2 separate regions of the Homo sapiens genome follow, and region 2 is linked to region 1. The links come from fine-mapping of genetic effects on gene expression. Tissue or cell type: whole blood. Region 1 holds a variant in brackets; the other region holds the start of a gene. All regions are shown on one strand. Distances are between the middles of the regions.

Region 1 (8,115 bases):
AAAATTAATAAAAATTGGGGAAACTGACTTTGCATACATGAATTAACCCCTCTTTATAGCTAATAAAATTTTTAGAACAGGGTCTCTTCAACTTTGGGCATTAAGCTGACACTTCTCATATGGCTTTTGGCTCTAAGTAGTTCAAATTTTTTACCATTTGGCTCAAATCTGTGTTAGTTCTTCTATGGATGAAAGAAAAAAATGTAGACAATAATACAGAAGAAGGAAATTAATGAAACAACAGAACCTTCCAAGCTCCTTCCTACACCAGGCATCCTGGGGCTGGGCCTCATCCAGCAGCCCAGCTTCTCCTGGATGGCGCATGAGGCTTTTGGAGGGCTTTGAACTACTTTCACAACATCCGCTCTGCTTTCTGGCAGGCAAGCAAGGTTTGGCAGGGATTCCAAAAATACCATGAAAGAGAGAATGCTGTACTTTCAGTTTTTACTCCAAATAGTCAGTGTGTGGCTCGACTCAAGACCTAAGCATTGGAAATGTGTTCCACCAGAGTAGCTACGGGAAGAAAGGGTTCACCGCTCTTGTGACATAGGTCAGAGTAACTCAGAGAGAGTTTCAGTTGGACCCATTAATCATTCCATTAATAACTTATTTTAAAATAAAAGCAGACTTAGCCAAAAGTCAGTGAATGATGAGCTGTTAGAAATTCCTAAATATCTGTATTTAGTGTACAACATAATACGATCAACTTTTGCTCAAGTTCAACTTGGAAGTTTGCTCAACTTCCTAGAAGAATTTCCCTGAAGTGCATTCATTCCAGTACTATCCCAGTGCAGGGATTTTTCTTATTTACGGAATGCACCTGCGGCAAATATAAACATTATTGTTAAAACAGTTTCCTTGTTTCTGCATGAAACTCTGTTGTCTTTGCTTGTCTACACTCCTACTTTGGAGCTTTTAAAACATAAACATTTCCTCTGTGTATGATATATTCTCTGTGCAATATATCATACTCAGAGAAAAGTGCACAAATAGAAAAATTGTGCTTAAAGAATTATCACAAAATAAACACTTCCATACCACTACTACCAGGGTCACAGAAGGACCCGCACCCAGCACTCAGAAGCTCCATTCACATCCCCTCTCAGTCCCATCCTCTCCTCTTCCTCAAAGACAACCACTCTCTTGACTGCTTTGAATTTTAAAAACAATTAGAAATAATTATTATACCCTTCCAACATGAACATGCACACATGTACCAAGTTCTCTCTCTCCTTTGAATAGGTTGATGCACTTTGCTTTTGTTCAGCTTCTTCAGCAAGACCAATTTCCACATCAGCATGTCCTCCTACCTCCTGAGATTAATAGGACTGCATGACATGGGTCCTGTTCTATTTCATCAGCCCCAAGCACTGCACGAGGGATCTATGGAAAGGGCTCCTTCTCACAAATGTCCAGAAAGAGCAGTTCCCTAGCTGGGTGGGGCAGGCAGCCCTGAGCGGGCCCCCAATCTTCTCTGCTTCCTGGTATTCAAGGCCTTGTGTAATCTCCTCCCTGAAAATGAGATGACCCAATGACTTGCTTCTACTGAATAGAATACTGCAAAAGTAATGTGATGTCATTGCTGCCACTGGGTTATAACCCATCTCACTCACTCACTCTCACTGTGTTGCTTGCTCTGAAAGAAGCCAGTTTCCAAGTTGTGACCTGCCCTGTGGAGAAGCCCATGTGGCAAGGAACTGAGGGGAGCCTCTGGCCAACAGCCAGAGGGCAACTGAGACCCTCAGTCCAGCAACCTGAAAGGACCTGAATCCTGCCAATAATTAACATGCAGGAGTTTAGAAACTGATCCCTCTCCATGGAGGAATGAATGCAGCCCCAGCTGACAGCTTGATCACAGCCTTGTGAGAGACCTGGGGGCAGAGGCATTTGAGCAAGCCACACCCAGATTCCTGGCCACAGACACTTTGAAATAATAAATGCTGATTGTTTGGAGTTGCTAAGCTTTGGGATAATTTGTTACCTAGCACTGGATAACCGATACACTGACAGAAAAGCAAAAGCTGCTGAATTCACCAATGACGAGGTCACAGAGACCCATAGGGAATGGTAACACTAATTCTTTTCACAAAGTTGGCCCCCCAGTGGCCAGGTGAGGGCATGGTGCCGTAAAGATCTAGAATCCTGAGTCTGCTGCTCTGTGGAAGGCCTGAGGCCACAGCCTTTCTCCTTCTACTAATGACTCAAACTGCACATGCTCTCCGCGGCCTCTACTTCCTGCTTCTCCCAACGTGGAACTACAGCTTATTATCCGTTGACAGACATTCCATTTCCTTGAATGTCCTTCCCTTGGTATTCATTTCTTCCTGACTCACGGATTTCGTGACAGTGTTCCTAATGCCTCCAGTAATCCACTGTCCCCCTTGGACCACCAAAGCACCCTGAGCACATCTCAACCAGAGTATTTTTGCACTTCATTTTAATCATGTATTTGTTTTCCTCTGTTTCTACACCGGTAGAGTCCATTCAATGGTCCCAGTCACCTAGAATAGTGGCTGGTACATAGTAAGAGTCAGGAAATACTTGCTCAATGAAAACTTTACTCACTCATATCAGCTATCACAGACAAAGAAGACAGTAAAATCCCAACACGCTATGACATATTACATTGAATAATCAAATATATTCATCAGCTTCGTACATACTGTGAAATGGCGGCCAGTGATATCTTTTATTATCGATAAAAATTTTAATATTAAATAAGAGTGAATTTCTCTGCATTTGTATTATCTTTGTATAATTAAAATTTACTTTCTTTTTCCATTCTGGCCTCATTTTTGTAGCCTTTTAGGGTGTTCAGATGTTCTACTGACTAACTGGGACGCCTAAGAGCCACTCAGCCTGCCTTTGTAGCCTTGTCCTTTCAATTGCTGACATTTCTTCCTGGAAAATGACTTAAGTTCTTAATGCCAAAGGCCACAGACAAAACAAAATTCACTTACAGAATCTATCAAAGCTTTTCAGATAAATCGTCTGCTAAATCAGGAGCATTTTACAAAGTATCCTGGCCTCCACCTGTTCATGTTATAATCTAAATGTGAAAGCAGGACACTTTTGTTATGAAGAACCATTTCAGCTCAGGGAGGGCCTGAAAATAGCTTCAGTACTTCCTGTACACTTTCCCTTATTCCCATTGTGAAAACATCTGCTGGTCTATTACCACAGAGTGTGTACTTCCCACTGTCGGGCTCTCATGGTGCTCCTTGGCTGCAGTGCCCACAGCTGACAATCACTACATCTTTGCTGCAGCTGAAATCAAGACATTTCCTTCTGGATGCAGTCCTGAAGACTGGTACCCTTGTATGAATCAGATGAAAATTCGAGATCTTATTTATACGACTGTTTATTCTCACCAGTTGATGATCTCTGTCTCTCATCAACATTTATTGAACCAGGTACTGTGCTAGGTATAAGGGTTAAAAAACAAATTATGCATGGTCCTTGCTGTCCAGAAGCTTAAAATTTGAAATTTTATATCAGAGTGAATGCAAACATCAAGGCCTATTGTGAAAAACTGCCTTGGGCGCTACTGTGTGAATGTCCTAGTGCTTTAAGAACGTCAAGATCATCTTGCCCTATAAAGGTTATATTTACTTTTACAGCCCTTCCCTGCAACCACACAAACATGCTGTGATTAGCAAGAATCTCTCTGCAGAACCAGCCGTTCCTTGCCCCACATCCATAGAGTTCATCCACAATTTGAAATTTTGTTACCTTTAATGTGCTATTCAATGTTCGGATTTTGTGGAGTTTCTCGTTTATAGATGGATTTTTACACCGCTTAACAAAGGATTTTCTCAACTCCTTTTTAGTCGAAGGTCGTCGGTCCCCAAGAGGAGATAGACTAGCTTGCTCTAATGATTTGTACAGCTTCTCCATTTCATCATCTTCAGACACTTTTGTCTCTTCTATTTGAAAAAAAAAAAGAAAGCAGTAACAATAAACCCAGTGAAAAATCAAGGAGAGAACATTCAATACTGTGGTCCCAAGGCACGGCCCCACTGGCACCCTCATCTCAGACTTCTCTCCGGAACTGAAAGACAATAAATGTTTGCTGTCTAAGCCACCCAGTTTG[C/T]GATACTTTGTTACTGCAGAGCCACGTTCCCTGTGAAGGCACCAGGGAAGGAGTTATTCCAAGCCTCTCTCCTGGCTTCAAGTGGTTTTTTGGTTTGTGGCAGTATAACTCCAATATTCACATGGGGTGTTCCCTGCATGCATGTCTCTGTGTCCAAACTCCCCCTATTTATGAGGGTATCAGTCATGTTGGATTAGAAACCTGCCCTATTAACTCATCTTAACTAGTTAAATCTGCAACAACCCCATTTCCCAATAAGGTCACATTCTGAGGTATTAGGGGTTAGGACGTCAACATACGAATTTTATTAATTAATTAATTAATTTTATTATTATTTTTTTTGAGACGGAGTTTTACTGCTGTTGCCCAGGCTAAAGTGAAATGGCACAATCTTGGCTCACTGAAACCTACACCTCCCAGGTTCAAGTGATTCTCCTGTCTCAGCCTCCCAAGTAGCTGGGATTACAGGCACCTGCCACCATGCCCGGCTCATTTTTATATTTTTAGTACAGACAGGGTTTCACCATGTTGCCCAGGCTGGTCTTGAACTCCTGACTTTGGGTGATCCGCCCACCTTGGCCTCCCAAAGTGCTGGGATTACAGGTGTGAGCCACCACGCCCAGCCCAACATATGAATTTTAGAGGGACACAATTCAACCCATACATAGTCCACCCTCCGGCCTCCTAAATTCATGTGTTTCTCACGTGCAATATATTCACCTCATCCCAACAACTCCAAAAGTCTTAACCCATTCCACCATCAACTCTAAGACCAAAAGCTCACCCAAATATCATCCAGGCTGGGTGTGGTGGCTCACGCCTGTAATCCCAACACTTTGGGAGGCCAAGGCAGGAGGATCGCCTGAGCTCAGGAGTTTGAGACCACACTTGACAACATGGTAAAACCCGTTGTCTACTAAAATACAAAAAATTAGCTGGGTGTGGTGGTGCGTGCCTGTCATCCCAGCTACTCAGGAGACTGAGACACGAGAATCACTTGAGCCTGGGAGGTGGAGGTTGCAGTGAGCTGAGATCACACCACTGCACTCCAGCCTGGGCTACAGAGTGAGACTCTGTCACACACACACACACAAAATATCATCTAAACCAGGTATTGCTGAAACTCAGTGGGGGAGTGATTCATCCTGAGACAAAATTCATCTCCATCTTTAAACCCATGCAAGTCGACAAATATCTGCTTCTAAAACACAGTGTGGGACAAATAAGCCCTAGCAAATTATACACATGCTAAAGTTTGAGAACTACTGCCCTAGATGATTGCTTAATGTCCTTCCCAGAACTACCCTTGGAGAGAAGAAACCTGTCTGTGGTCTGTGGTTTTGAGTAGAAAGTGATCATTCCTCATCTTGCCACACAGACTCCATCTCCCTTCCTAACCACACTTTGCCAGCCTCGGCCCACATGATTGCAGTGAAGCCACTCCACCACAGGATCTACTGGGGACCATGTGGACTAGACGAGGCCAATGGCAGTTCCACCATTCTGGCCACAGTCACTGATTCAGAGATAAACATGTGCCTCTGGTCAGGCCATTTGGGGCCAAGGAGACTCAGTTCCAAGACTTTGGAGTATCAGATAAGTAATCTCTCTTTTTTCTTAAGCTGAATGTTGTGATAGTGTGAGCTGGAAGTTTCCAGGAAGTATCCCAAGAATAATGATATGGAAGCCAACCCATTCTGAGACACAGATCTTGATGATACCGTTGGAGCCCTCTCAGCCTGTGGGAGCTAATATGTTACCCATGTTAAGCTACCCTGGCTTTGGTTTCCAATCATATGCACCTGGAAGGGCCTCAAATGATACAGAGGTTACTCAAAGAAAATCTTCATCCTTTGATGTTGCTTTAATTTCTCACTAAGAACGTTAGTCTATTTTTCCTTTATTCCTTGGAAGAAAGCTTGGGAAAGAAATACAATGAGATTTCTTTTTCCACCACATACTCCTTAATGTTTATATGTTTCACTTCCTGTCCAAAGAACCAGCTTGAAAGAGGACTCTATAGAAAGTATGGCATTAGAGGAACTAGAAAAACAGCCTCTCCATAGGGTGGAGAAAAGCATATAATGGTGACCTAGGAGCATCAAAACCAAGCAAACTTCACATGCCTTAGAGTTTACTCCTCTACGATTAGAAACCTTTATGCAAGAATTAGTTTCCCCTATCCATCCCAGAAAGTCACCAATACTCTTTCATAAAACAGAAAGCAAAGATGATGCACTCACTTCATAGCTGACTTAAAATGTTCATCAGCACAACCTCCTTTTTCTCTACCAAACCGTCTCACAAAAGGGAAGAAAATACTCAAAACTACATCTGAAGACAATTAGACTTTTGGCTCACACCGTGTGCAGACATCAAAAGTGGGCTTTTGTCAATAAGCACATGAAAAGATGCTCAGTATCATCAGTCATGAGGGAAATGCAAGCCAAAACCATCATGAGATGTCCCTTCACACCCAGGGTGGCTACAATTAAAAAGACAGACAGTAGTAAGTGTGGATGAGGATGTGGATAAATTGGAACCCTCATACATTGTTAGTGGGAATGTAAAACAGAGCTGCTACTTTTATTTTATTGTTTATTTTTTAAAGACAGGGTCTTGGTCTATCACCTGGGCTGGAGTGCAGTGGCATGATCATAGCTCATTGCAGCCTTGAACTCCTGGACTCACTAGATTCTCCTGCCTCAGCCTCTCAAGTAGCTGGGACTACAGGTGCATGCCACCATGCTCAGCTAATTGAGTTGCCACTTTAGAAAATAGTTTGTCCATTTCTCATGGAGTTTAGCATGTGCCCCAGCAATTACACTCCTACATAAATACCCAAGAGAATTGAAAACATATATTCACACAAAAATTGTACATGAATGTTCACGGCAGCATTATTCATAACAGACTCAACTTGGGAAGATCCTAAATGTTCATCAGCTGATGAAAGGATAAACAAAATGTGGCATTTGCATGTGACAGAATAGTATTCAATAATTAAAATAAATACTCAGTTGTCCACAATACTTCAACATGGGTGAACCTTGAAAACATTTTGCTAAGTAAAAGAAGCCAGTCACAAACAACCACATATTGCGTGATTCCATTTATATGAAATGTCCAGATTAGATGAACCCACAGAGACAGAAACCAGAATAATAATTGCCTGGGGTCTGGGAGGGGACAAGCAGGAGTGGAGAATGGCAGCTAATGTGTAAGGATTTCTTTTTGTGATGCTGAAATGTTCCAAAATTAGATTGTGATGACAGCTGCACAATTCCAAATATACTAAAAACCAATGAACTGTACACTTTCATGTGTGAATGTTATGGTATGTGAAATATATCTCAATAAAACTATAAAAAGTAGTCATTTATGAGATTGTCATGAGAGCTGATGCTACATAGCAGAAATACTAAGCATGGCCACAGTCATGGGGTCAAGCTGGAGACACTGGAAAGTCTTAAAGAAGTTAAGTGGAAAGAAATCTGACTCCTGAAGGGGGGCATTAGGATTGAAGACTTAGAGTTTTCAGTTTTAAGACACAGTAATTTTACATGTCCTTTTACTTTTTAAAAAAATACAGCTAACAAGGTAGAATTCTACTTAGATTAAGGCATAAACACATAGCTTTCAATACCACAGTATTTTTGAATTAAGGAATATATGTTTAACAAACATCAACAAGCAAACCAAACAAGAGTATGACAAAGATAAATAGAATGGTTTCTTTACATTTCTCTGTGTTCACCAAGTAGCTACATTGTGCTACTAAAGATTGTGATAGAAAACAACTTACCAATTGAGCCACTAAAAGAAAAAAATATTTTTGACTAAAACATTTTGTTTGTAATTATGTCACAGTAAAAATTATTATCATTGCTTCCAAGATAGCCAAATAGGAACAGCTCCAGTCTACAACTCCCAGTGAAATCAATGCAGAAGACAGGTGATTTCTGCATTCCCAACTGAAGTACCTGGTTCATCTCATTGGGACTGGTTGGACAGTGGGTGCA
Region 2 (8,115 bases), 190 kb after region 1:
ATTTCTAACTTGACTTAGTTTTCCTTGACGATCTGGTCATTTTTTTATTCAGACTTCTTTTGAAAGACTCATCCACATTCTAGTAACTTTGGGCTGAGTTTAAGCTGGCTCACTTTTCACCTTTCAGCTGCTTCTATGTCAATCCCTGTGTCAGTCTGGGAGACCTGTCTTTGCTCACATTTGTTCAGCCCTTTGCCTTTTTGTCTGCCGACTATCTCTCCTTTCTAAGACAAAGATTGATTCTAAGACAAAGACAGAAGATTCTTTTCAATGCCTACAAGCCAAAATATTTTATTTTGGTTACGTCCCTGATAAGGGACTCCATGGTGACCTGCTGGCCCTGTGAGACGGCAGGGCCAAGATTCTAACAACAGGAATGATAATTCTTGAATCTATAAAATAATCTGTGACTCTATAGAAATGTTTTTATGACCTCTCCCTATGAGTACCAAGATGATAAACATATGGCAACATTCCCTAAGAAATGTATTAACAATTATATTGGGAGATTTAAATTTAACTTATAATTAATAACTGACAAATTGACTATTGCATTTTTTAGGAAATCATCAAACTCAGGTTTAGACGCAGTTATAAGTCATCCAGAGAAAATAACCCATTTTCATGTCATTCTAGGAATTAATCAGACCAGCCAGCCCCAGTGGGACCACGTTTCCTTTTTCTCACTTCAGAGTTGACACATGATTCTGCACCAGCCTTACTCTCAAAGGGGATTTCCCTACAAAGACTAAATAACATAAATTTTAAGTGTCATTTCTTAGACTGCAATGAACCATGAACTTCAGCACACTATCACTAAAACATTGCTTTTGTCGTCCTGTTGGTGGAAGATTTAAGGAGGGTTACATTTTTGTCCATTTCTTTTCTTTTCCTTTTCCTTTTTTTTTTTTTTTTTTTTGAGATGAAGTCTCCCTCATTGCCCAGGCTGGAGTGCAGCTGCGTGATCTCGGCTCACTGCGCCTCCCGGATTCAAGTGGTTCTTGTGCCTCAGCCTCTTGAGTAGCTGGGATTACGTGCGCCCGCACCATGCCCAGCTAATTTTTGTATTTTTGGTAGAAACAGGGTTTCGCCATGTTGGCCAGAGTGGTTTGGAACTCCTGACCTCAGGTGATCCGCCCGCCTTGGCCTCCCAAAGTCCTGGGATTACAGGCATGAGAGCCACCGCACCCGGGCCTATTTACTTTCTTTCAACGTTTGTTTTATTTTCAGATTATTAAAATAGTTCAGGTATGTTCCACTAATGAAAAATCTGGGAAGAAAATAGAGTACAAAGTACAAAGAAAGAAGAACCACGAGCTATAAGCCCACTACTCATATATTAACATTTTAATGCATTTCACCCAAATCTTGCTTCTCTGCAGTATTTTTACATAGTTGAAAAAGTTATGTTCCTCCTTTTTGGACTTAGCATTACATCATGAGACTATTTCCATAAATATCATTTTCTTGATGACATTTCTTTATATACCACCATGTGTTCAACCATTCTGATAACTAGGCTTATCATATTTATTTTAAATTAATGATTCTTTTAAAAACTCACTTTCACTTTACAAAATTCAGAAAATGCACAAAGCATAAAGAAAAAAAGAGAAATTAGAGATTAAATTTTTAAGCGTGGCTCTGGCAACTTGAAAACTGATATCGATAACTGCCATTTAATGCAATCATATTTTTAACCCTCACACAACAACCCAAAAAGTCAATATGTTATAGTCACCACTTTATAGGTTCGGAGGTCACAGAGCTGGTAGGTTCAGAGATATAGATTTTGAACAGATATGTCTGAGCCCCCAACTGTGTTTTCTCTTGGCTAAATTATACTGACCTTCCCATGATTACCTCCACCATTACCTCTACTACCATCACCTCCAACCACCATCTCCGCCATCTGTACCATCACCTCTACCATCACTTCCTCAACCATCTCCACCATGTCTACCATCACTTCTACCATCTGTCACCTCCACCGTCACCTCCAACCACCATCTCCACCACCACCTCCACCACCACCTCCACCATCTCCTCCACCACCACCTCCACCATCTCCTCCACAACCACCTCCACCATCTCTACCGTCACTTCCACCATCACCTCTACCACTCCAATCACCATTTCTACCATCTCCATTACCACCTCCACCATCGCCTCCACAACCACCTCTACCATCTCCACCGTCACTTCCACCATCACCTCCCCTACGACCACCACTTCCAACACCACCCCCTTTATCTCCACCTCCACCTCCACCACCATGTATCGCCAACCCTTTCACTTTACTGACCTGGGGATTTTTCTGATCCCCGTTCTACACACCCTTTCTTTACTCCACACCTTCATATTCTCCTCTCCTCCTCCACTCTGATCTTTTCTAACATTCACTTTTTAAAGTGCCTGAGTAACAGAGATAAAGCAATGGCTTTCCTACCACATTCATTTTATGAATTATGCCAGTTATTCATTCATTCAACAAATATTTACTGAGAGCAGGCACTGTTCTGAGCACTTGGGAGCACAAGTAACTCCTCCATTTGCAGGATTCTCTTTAAGGCTAAAAAGCTTATTTTTTAGGATTTTTCTTCACACACACACACACACACACACACACACACACACACACACACACACACCATTTGCCACATTAGACCTACTTGCAAATTGTTAACCTGTACTGCAATTATCAGCTCACACTGCAGAGCCTCCAAGCTGGATGGAAAGCAGAAGTGAGCTGTTCAAAAGGATGCACGAGTCAAAAGGAAAGTCTCAGGCAATAGTGATGAAGTAATTTCTTATCTCTTATTGCCACAGCAAACTACCGCAGGAAAGAACTTCCTATTTCCATACTCTGATGATGTATATTTGCTTAACACAGCTTGCCTGAAATAGTTCATACATGGACCCACTCCAGAAAAGACACTTGATTTATAAAAAGAGGAATGGAAGGAAATTATAAGGTAAATTAAAGAATGAGTTCATCAACACATACACAAACTTACACCCTTTTCTTCCTTGCTTGCATGATGTGAGCAGAAAGAAATGTGTGTTCTTTCCATTTCTGTTTCTTTTCTTTCTTTCTTTCTTTTTTTTTTTTGAGATGAACTCTTGCTCTGTCACCCAGGCTGAAGTGCAGTGGCGCAATCTCAGCTCACTGCAACCTCCGCTTCCCGGGTTCAAGCAATTCTCCTGCCTCAGCTTCCCAGGTAGCTGGGATTACAGGTGCATGCTCCCACGCCCAGTTAATTTTTGTATTTTTAGTAGAGACGGGGTTTCATCATGTTGGCCAGGCTGGTCTCGAACTCCTGACCTCAGATGATCCACCCGCCTTGGGCTCCCAAAGTGCTGGGATTACAAGCGTGAGCCACCGCACCCGGCATTCTATTTTCTATTTTCTTTTCTTTCTTTTTTTTTTTCTTCCTGTAGAGATGAGGTCTCATTATTTTGCCCCCAGGCTGGTCTCAAACTCCTGACCTCAAGTGATCCTCTCGCCGTGGTCACCCAAAGTACTGGGATTACAGGTGTGAGCCATTGTGCCCAGCCCTCGGTTTCAATTTTCTACATAAAATAAATAACTCGATAGAAATTAGACTTTATCAAGGACAGCACTAGGAACACATAGGCCACTCAAGACTAATAGAGCCCACTGCTGTAGTCAAAGATGCTTCAGTGGGTTATAATTCTGACTTCTATAATTAAATACTTTCACATATACCCCAGCAAAGAAAAATCAAGTGCCCCAGACACCCTTACTAAAAGACTCTGAACCAACAACACCTAGCTTTCATTTTTATACCAGAGATATTTTGGCAAGCCTGAGACCTTTATCAAAGTGTAAAATGTCCCCCAGCTGCCTCCATGCAAAGGAAGCTCCCTTGCAAAGAACACACTTTCTCGAAAGAGGGCGGCCCCAGAGTGCTTCCCCAAATGAACTCCTCAGGACCCAAATACATGCTGAATTGTGCTTTTCTAAATCAAACCTGTGGTCTGCAGTCTAAACACCTATCAAGACAACACCCATTTAAGAAACATAAAAGCAGAGTGAGTACACAACTCTCTCCTCTTTCAAAGCTTTCACAGAATTAAAGAATCTTTAGCACCTGGCTTCCCAGATTACAGAGAGCTGAGTGAATATTACATCCCCAAAGTCATATTTCCTACCTCACTACTCTAAGGAGAGTGCTAGGGTATCCATTGCTTTGCCATCTTGATCTGTCAAGCAGTTACCTCTCATACATCAGCCAAGAAGTGACGTTACTTACATGCAATACAAAGAGAGTAAATCCAAGAGCAGTCTTATTCCTGGATTCAGAAGCCTCATAGTACTCTGAGGCCAAGCTTGAGGATTCTACTTAAAGCAGCCTCAGCTCTGGAAACTCAGTCAACCCAGAACTAACATTCAAAGCTGATCAGAGAGTAAAGCTCTTTCGAAAGAAGAGGAAGTATCATCTCCACTTCCTCAATCCTAACGTTCTTCCTTCTCATTGTTATGAAACCCTTCCTTGATGCCCATATCCAGGACACAGTACATGTAAGGCAAGCACACCCCATCTGCCTGAGTTCATTGATCACTAAGCACTGCCCAGTGTATTCATTTGCCGAGCACATTGGTGGAACAGTTCATGGTTCTGCTTTCCTGTTTTGGAGGCAAGGATGTTCATTTACAGGCATGGAGGGTGAGATGATCTGCAGAGTCATTCTCAGCATTTTTGGGTGAAATGCCACTTCAACCTCTTTAGGTTCAATCTTCTTTCAGATTTCCCTCTTTCCTCCTTTCCTAATCGTTCATAATGCTCTAATAAAGAGAGGGTACAGACACATTTGTAAAACGTATTTTAGGATAAAAATAAGTCTTAGCCTGCCATCTTTTGCAGTAGACATAGAAGAGTCTCTAACCACAAAACTTTTCTTTCCCACATTGGAAAAGGAAAATGGCAGGCTGAAAGTCAGAGATATTCCATCTCATTACAAATTCCTGCCCTCCCAATCTCCCTTTCAACACCAGCTTCTTGTTTCTCTATACCTTCTAGGGAAATGAATACAGCTGGGCGTGGTGGCAGATGCCTGTAATCCCAACCACTCAGGAGGCTGAGGCAGGAGAATTGCTTGAACCTGGGAGGCAGAGGTTGCAGTGAGCCGAGATCGCACCACTGAACTCCAGACTAGGAGACAGAGCAAGACTCCAACTCAAAATAAATAAATAAATAAATATGTATGTGTATATATATATATAATATATATATATAATATATATATTATATATATATTATATATATATTATATATAATATATATATTATATATATATTATATATATAATATATATATTATATATATTATATATATATAATATATAAAATATATATATTATATATATAAAATATATATAATATATATAATATATATATAAAATATATATAATATATATAATATATATATAAAATATATATATAAAATATATATATATATAAAATATATATATATAATATATATATAAAATATATATATATAATATATATATAAAATATATATATATAATATATATATAAAATATATATATATATATATATATATATATATAGAATATATAGAATATATAGAAACCTAATCCCCAATGTGATTGTATTTAGAGGTGGACCTTTGGGGAGTGATTAGGTCATGAGGACAGTGCCCTCATGAATGGTATTAATTTTCTTATTAAAGAGAACCTGGAGATCTGCCCACCCCTCCACCATATGAGGACATGGCCAGAAGACAGTCACCTAGGAACGAGGAAGCAGGTCCTCACCAGACAATGAATCTGCTGGCGCCTTGATCTTGGATGTCCAGCCTCCAGAACTGTGAGAAATAAATGTCTTTTGTTTGTAAGCCACCCAGGCTACGGTGTTTTGATATAACAGCCTGAATGACTAAGACAAAGATAAAATGTAAACTAAATCTGTGGAGGAGTGAAAAAATGAAAGAAGATGCTGTACATTTTGAGCAGGAACAAAATGAAGGTTCTCTCAGCGGCTTCTTGTTTGTGTACACTTCTATTTCTGGAAGTGCTGCCTCATCTTCTCCCTATATTGAGTTGTCTTCTAGTTCCCTGCTTTACGTAGAAAAAAAAATGGTACTAGGTGATATTAAAGGAATTTAGTGGTATCAACAGCATGGCCTGGCTTCTCACCAGACATTTAGATGCCATCATCAAAGATATCCTCAAAAGACATGTTATTTACCTTTATGGGGCCAGAATAGAGCCACTTAAATTCTTTGAGCAAAGATGATTTGTAGAATTAGAATAATCCTCAAAACGGCCGGACTGTCAGTTCAAGATGACGGGCTGACCACAGATTTGCTCCCTCCCTCCCCAAAGACTCCGTTAAAATGAGAAAAGTATAAAAAGTTTATAGGGCCGGGCACGGTGGCTCACACCTGTAATCCCAACACTTTGGGAGCCCCAGGCTGGCAGATCATGAGGTCAGGAGATCGAGACCATCCTGGCTAACATGGTGAAACCTGTCTCTACTAAAAATACAAAAAATTAGCCACGCCTGGTGGCACGAGCCTGTAATCCCAGCTTCTCAGAAGGCTGAGGCAGGAGAATCGTTTGAACCTGGGAGGCGGAGGTTGCAGTGACCTGAGATCGCGCCACTGCACTCCAGCCTGGGTGACAGAGCGAGATTCCGTCTCAAAAGAAAAAAAAAGATATAAACCCACAATAACCCAAAAAAGGAGGAAAAGCATCAGAACTTGGGAGAGCACAACAGATTTCTGGCAGCCTGAAAGCCGATGGAGGAGCAATAACAGATGGAGGCAGGCAGGGGAACCACAATATCTCATTAGTTAGGAGAACACGGCGTTGGAGGAAATTGCCCGTGTGCGGTGCTGAATCCCTGAGAGGACCGGAACTCAAGCCAAAAGAAGCTAAGAGAGCTAAATGAGTGATAGGGTGACAGGACTGAAAACAGGAAGAGTAATTCAAAGTCTGTAAGAACTCAGCCCCTCCCATACCCCTCTTTCAAATCTCTCTGTCCGCCCAGCCTCTGCACAGCAAACACACACAATTCCAACCCCGGGCAGCATACCGAGGATTCGTCTCTACACATAGTGAAATCATGCAGAGAATACAGGCATTGTATGTGGATATGAGCACTCCACAGTCAGAACTCCACATTCTGGCAATAAGAGCCTCATCTAGCATGTGCTGGATGATGGATGATGTGCTTTTTTTTTTTTTTTTTTTTTTGAGACAGAGTCTTGCTCTGTCACCCAGGCTGGAGTGCAGTGGCATTAATTATCTCGGCTCACTGCAACCTCCGCCTCCAGGGTTCAAGTGATTCTCCTGCCTCAGCCTCCTGAGTAGCCAGGATTACAGATATGTGCCACCACACCCAGCTATGTTTTGTATTTTTAGTAGAGACAGTGTTTCACCATGCCGGCCAGACTGGTCTCAAACTCCTGACCTCAGGTGATCTGTGCACCTTGGCCTCCCAAAGTGATGGGATTACAGGCATGAGTCACCACGCCTGGCCTAGATATGCTTCTAATCAGTATCCTTAGAGACAGTCCTGAAGATATTGTATCCATTAAAAAGAACAGGATGCTAAGAAAGATAGATAATCTGAAAACAAGAAAGACCCCTTGGATATTGCAAATATAATTGTTAAATAAAGATTTTGATAGGTTGGGTGATAAATTCAAGTGAAATTTTCAGGAAATATTATTTGATGACATAGTCAAAGAAATAACATAAAGGATCCCCCTGAAGTCCAAGAATATTTAGATTAAAAAGTCTCATCGAGTGCCTAGGATGAAGAATTTCAAGTCACTGCAAAATTTCCAAACTCCGGAAATAAAGAGAAAATCTTAAAATCTCCCAAACACAGAAAATAAGTCACTTTCACAGAAACAAGGAATCAAAGGGCTCCAGATTTCACAGAAGTAGCATTAAGGGTTAGAAGGTCAGCGAGCACAGCCTTCAAAGTTCTGAAGGATTTATATTTCACTCTAGAATTTTGTGTTCATTCATCCAGTGTATTAGTCCATTTTCATACTGCCATAAAGAACTGCCAGAGACTGGGTAATTTCTAAAGGAAAGAGGTTTAATTGACTCTTA

Evidence for each region. PIP is the estimated chance that this variant, and not a neighbour inherited with it, causes the effect.
Region 2: it holds the start of IPCEF1, and the variant in region 1 is fine-mapped to the expression of IPCEF1 in whole blood (INTERVAL, PIP above 0.99).

What each region holds. Positions count from the first base shown.
Region 1 is chr6:154,164,188-154,172,302 of GRCh38, forward strand. IPCEF1 (interaction protein for cytohesin exchange factors 1) reads right to left here. Exons shown (of 12, transcript NM_001130700.2): 11 at 3,733-3,926. It also overlaps a transcript of OPRM1 not described here. Among named protein-coding and RNA genes, the nearest start is that of OPRM1, 130 kb to the left of the region's middle. The variant C/T (reference allele first, on the strand shown) is at 4,094.
Region 2 is chr6:154,352,395-154,360,509 of GRCh38, forward strand. It overlaps IPCEF1 (interaction protein for cytohesin exchange factors 1), which reads right to left and starts at 4,409. Exons shown (of 12, transcript NM_001130700.2): 1 at 4,278-4,409. LOC105378067 (a long non-coding RNA gene) reads right to left here. Exons shown (of 3, transcript XR_007059823.1): 3 at 7,499-8,115.